Regions from separate parts of the Homo sapiens genome. Here region 2 is linked to region 1. Evidence: fine-mapped expression QTL. Tissue or cell type: spleen. Region 1 holds a variant in brackets; the other region holds the start of a gene. All regions are shown on one strand. Distances are from middle to middle.

What was found. PIP is the estimated chance that this variant, and not a neighbour inherited with it, causes the effect.
Region 2: it holds the start of PPIL3, and the variant in region 1 is fine-mapped to the expression of PPIL3 in spleen (GTEx, PIP 0.94).

What each region holds. Positions count from the first base shown.
Region 1 is chr2:201,249,366-201,252,127 of GRCh38, reverse strand. It overlaps a transcript of CASP8 not described here. Among named protein-coding and RNA genes, the nearest start is that of CASP8, 9.8 kb to the left of the region's middle. The variant G/T (reference allele first, on the strand shown) is at 1,585.
Region 2 is chr2:200,887,927-200,890,426 of GRCh38, reverse strand. PPIL3 (peptidylprolyl isomerase like 3) reads left to right here and starts at 1,350. Exons shown (of 7, transcript NM_130906.3): 1 at 1,350-1,471. It overlaps NIF3L1 (NGG1 interacting factor 3 like 1), which reads right to left and starts at 1,056. Exons shown (of 7, transcript NM_001369441.2): 1 at 775-1,056. RefSeq lists enhancers at 273-522, 781-1,525, 1,413-1,662, 515-1,714, 1,783-1,832 and 1 more.

The DNA.
Region 1 (2,762 bases):
AGATGTTCAACATCATATGTCATTAGGGAATTGCAAATTAAAACAACAGTGAGATACCACTACATATTTGCCAAAATTGCTAAAATCCGAAACACTGACACCACCAAACATTGGCAAGGATGTGAAGTAACAGGAACTCTCATTCATTACTCGTGGGAATGAAAACTCATACGGACACTTTGGAAGAAAGTCTGGAAGTTTGTCATGAAGCTTTTTTTTTTTTTAGACGGAGTCTCACTCTGTCTCCCAGGCTGGAGTGCAACGGCAAGTGTGATCTTGGCTCACTACAGCCTCTGCCTCTGGGTTCAAGCGATTCTCCTGCCTCAGCCTCCCAAGTTGCTGGGATTACCGGCATGACCACCACGCCCAGCTAATTTTTGTATTTTTAGTAGAGACAGGGTTTCACCATGTTGGTCGGGCTGGTGTTAAACTCCTGACTTCAAATAATACACCTGCCTCCGCCTCCCAAAGTGCTGAGATTACAGGTGTGAGCCACTGCGCCTGGCCATTTTTTTTTCTTTTTTTTTTTTTTTGACACAGAGTCTCACTCTATTGCCCAGGCTGGAGTGCAGTGGCGCCATCTTGGCTCAATGCAACCTCCACCTCCCAGGTTCAAGCGATTCTCCTGCCTCAGCTTCCTGAGTAGCTGGGATTACAGGCACACGCCACCACGCCCAGCTAATTTTTGTATTTTTTTTAGTAGAGATGAGGTTTCACTGTGTTAGCCAGACTGGTCTTAAACTGCTGATCTCAGGTGATCCCACCTCAGCCTCCCAAAGTGCTGGGATCACAGTCATGAGCCACCGCGCCTGGCCAAAGCATATGCTTACCGCAAGATCCAGCAATCACGTTTCTAGATATTTACCCAAATTGAACATTTATGTCCATGCAAAAACCTGCACATGAATGTTTATACCAGCTTTATTCATAATTCATAACTGCCAAAAGTTGGAAGCAACCAAGATGTCCCTCAATAAATGAATGGATAAACTGTGGCACATCCATACCATAGATTATTATTCAGCAATAAAAAGAAATGAGCTATCAAACCACGCAAAGGCATGGAAGAGCCTTAATTGAATGTTACTATGTGAAAGAAGGCAATCTGGAGAGGCTACATACTGTATGATTCCAACTATGTGACATTCTGATTAAAACTATAGAGACAGTGGTTGCCAGGGACTCAGGGGAGGAAGTGTGAATAGGTTCAGCACAGGGGATTTTTAGGGGAGTGAAATTATTCTGTACAATATTGTAACGGTTCTACATGGCATTATTCATTTGGCAAAACCGGTAGGATGTACACCAAAAGTGAACCCTAATGGAAACTATGGAACTTTAGTTCAGAATAATTTATTGATGGGATTCAGGACGTGCTACCACAAAATATGGCACCACGACTGACATGGTTTGGATTTGTGTCCTCACCCAAACTCATGTCCAGTTGTAATTCCTAATGTTGGAGGCGGAGCCTGGTGGGAGGTGATTGGATCTTGGGGGTGGTTTCTAATAGTTTAGCACCATCCCCACAGTGCTGTTTGCATGATAGAATTCTCATGATATTCTGGTTGTTTAAAAATATGT[G/T]GCACCTCCCCGCTCTCTTGCTTCCCCTGCTCTAGCCACATGAGATGTCTCGCTCCCCCTTTGTCTTCCACCATAATTGTAAGTTTCCTGAGGCCTCCCCAGAAGCCAAGCAGATGCCAGCATCATGCTTCCTATACAGTCTGTGGAACCATGAGCCAATTAAAACTCTTTTCTTTATAGATTGCCCAACCTCAGGTATCTCTTTAGAGCAATGCAAGAACAGACTAACACAATGACATATTGAATATTTTAAGGTGAAGGAATTTGCAAAAGCAGCATGTGCAGGAAGGGTTTTCTGACCTTCTCCTGAAGCCAGGTCATAAGACCCTCAGGTGAGAGATGCCCTCCCTATACCTGGTGGTATCTGTGAAGACAAAGGGACACAGAGAGGAATCTAACTAAACAAACGGGCCTTGATAAGCTTCTGCCAGCGGACTACACTTACTTCAAACTCTTTGCTCTATCATATCCTCCACAACTGTCCACCCTTTATCAAACCTACATCAAACTGTAACTGCTTCTTGGAGTCTTCATTTCCTTATAAAGGCTTCCATGTCACATAAAACTTAAATATGTTTATGCACTTTTCTCTTATTAATCTGTCTTCTGTTATAGGGTTCTCAGCCATGAACTTAGAAGGGTAGAAGGAAAACAGATTTGCCCTCCCCTACAATATCAATATTGGTTCATCACTTGTAACAAATGTACCACACTAATGCAAGATGTTAATAACGGGAAAGTGTGGGGAGGGGAGAAGTGTAGGAGGCAGAGGGTATATGGGAACTCTCTACTTTCTGCTCTTTCTTTTTTTTTCTTTCTGAGACAGGGTCTCTCTCTGTCACCTAGGCTAGAGTGCAGTGGTGTGATCTCAACTCACTGCAACCTCCGCCTCCCGCGCTCAAGCGATCCTCTCGCCTTAGCCTCCCGAAGCCAATCTGATTAAGCTAATCTGTTAAGACTCAACAATAAGAAAACAACCCGATTGAAAAGTGGGCAAGAGGTCTGAACAGACACCTCACAAAAAGATACGCAGATGGCAAATAAGCATATGAATAAGCTGGGACTACAGGTGCATACCACCATGCCCAGCTAATCTGCTCTGTTTTTTCTCTAAACCTGAAACTGTTCTTAAAAAATAATCCATTAATTTTTTAAAGTCTCACACTCTATTCTCACTT
Region 2 (2,500 bases), 360 kb after region 1:
TTTGAAGTGATACAGGGTCTCCAAAAACCACTCGAGGTCTTGGAAGTTTGTTTTTGTTTTTTTCTTTTTGACACAGGGTTTCACTAGGCGCCTAGGCTGGAGTGCAGTGGCGTGATCTCAGCTCACTGCAGCCTCGACTTCCTGAGCTCAAGCAGATCCTCCCACCTCAGCCTCCTGAGCAGCTGGGACTACAGGCGCTAAACACCACACCTGGCTAATTTTTGTATTTTTAGTAGAGATGGGGATTCGCCATGTTGCCCAGGCTGGTCTCAAACTCCTGCGCTCAAGTGATCCACCTGCCTCGGCCTCCAAGAGTACCGGGATTACAGGGGTGAGCCACTGCGTCCGGCCTTGAAAGATCTTCTAATGGTCCTCATAGTACTCCATTCTCCAGCATTTTCTACATCTGGCAAGCTCGAAAGTGAAACCCTAGTGGGCCATCATGCAGGTTTTGAGTTATTTACTGTTACAGATGAGGAAACTGCGAAGCTACATGGCCACAGTCAACAACGACAACAGAAGGCAACATAGTATGGCGGTTAAGAGCACCGACTCTGAAGCCAGCCTGAATCCTAGAGCCAGAGCTGTGCAACAGCAGGTAAATGACTTATCCTGTGCAGTTTCCTCCTTAATGGAAATAGTGCCCAGGCCACAATATCGCGAGATTTACACGTAAAGCTGGAAACAACTCCCGTCCTAGAGTAAGCACTGTTTACTATTAAGCAGCATCAGTAGGGCCCCTTTGCAACCTGCAAACCGCTCCCTCGACGTTACCTCATCTATGCCTCATTTCAGTGCCACTTCAGGCCTTTTCCAGGACAGTGAAAAACCACGAGACACAGCCAGTTAAGTCTGAGTCAGGACCCCTGTCCCACTAGTGCGCTGTGCTCTGGTGCGGCAGGGCAGTTTTCTGACCCAATCTCCTCTTCTGCTGTCCTCTGCAGCACCAAGATAACAATCACAGCCGGCCCCAACCGGCACCTACCGCGAAGGTCACAACTACACTCGCGGGTTTTTAAATCGCCCACTACTCACCAGTCCCGGAAACTTCTCTGCGTCACTTCCGGTCCCGCGTCGGCGCTCCGGATGCTGTGGCACTTGGCTCCCCGTAGCGGGAGAGCTGGGCGGAAGTGGTCCTTTCCGTTTGGCAGCCGAGTGTAAAGCATTGCTTGAGGTTGCCCAGGTAGTTTCGCCTTACACTTCTTGTCCCAGTGCAATTATTAGTAGAGCTCCCTTTCACTGTCAAATTTCCGGTTGGGGATAAATTGCATTGTCGTTTTGGTTTGAGATAGGAAGATGAGGGGAGGAAGGAGGTGAGGCGGTAAGGGGCGTTCTCTCTCTTGGGTCCCGCGCCCAACTTCCGCTGGCCCAAAGAAACTATAATTTTGAACCAACAGACCTCTGCTGGCATCTGCGATTGCATTTTTCCTGTTTTAACAACGGCTGTGCTAGACGAAGTGGTGAAGCCCAAGTATGGAGTAACGTCATTAATTCTTTCATTCACTTATTCGAATGCTTGCTGAGTTCTGTGTTGCTACTGGTTTAGTTCTTGGGATACTGCGAGTGAACAGTGGGCGGCGAGGCTGTTGTTGCAACGTCAGAGTAAAAGAAGGACCCTGCACGGCGGCCTCCCAGCACTTCGGGAGGCCGAGGCGGGCGGATCACCTGAAGTCAGGAGTTCGAGACCAGCCTGGCCAACACGGCGAAACCCCGTCTCTACTAAAAATACAAAAATTAGTCGTGCATGGTAGCGCGCGCCTGTAGTCCCACCTACTCGGGAGGCTGAGACACGACAATCACTTGAACCCGGGAGGCGGAGGCGGAGGTTGCAGTGAGCCGAGATCCTGCCGCACTGCACTCCAGCCTGGCGACATAGCGAGACTCCGTCTCAAAATGAAAAAAAAAGAGAAGTTCATAGTATATTAGTGATAAGTGCTGTGGTGGAAAAAAAAAAGTTCATAGTATATTAGTATAAGTGCTGTGGTGAAAAAAAAAAAAAGCGAATTTCATAGTATATTAGTGATAAGTGCTGTGGGAGAAGGAAATAGGAATGTCCTAGGGCTGAAGGGCTAAAGCAGTTCTGTGTAGGATTGTCAGGTCAGTTAAACTTGACATTTAAGCAGAAATTTGGAGGTGAGGAAATTAGCCGTAGAGATGTCTGAGTATAAGAATTCCAGGCAAAAGGGACACCCAATGCCTGGACCCTAAGGGAAGGTATCTGGGTTATTGGGGGACTTGCAAGGAGGCTCTTGAAGAAGAGCAAGCCGGGCAAGTAGGAGATTGGGAGGCTTGAATCGGGTAGGATATCTTCTATAGCCGGGTTTTTATTACCTAGGGGATGCCATTAGAGGATTTTTTTTTTTTTTTTTTTTGACGGAGTCTCGCGCTGTCACCCAGGCTGGAGTGCAGTGGCGCGATCTCAGCTCACTGCAGCCTCCGCCTCCTGGGTTCAAGTGATTCTCCTGCCGCAGCCTGCTGAGTAGCTAGGACTACAGGCGCC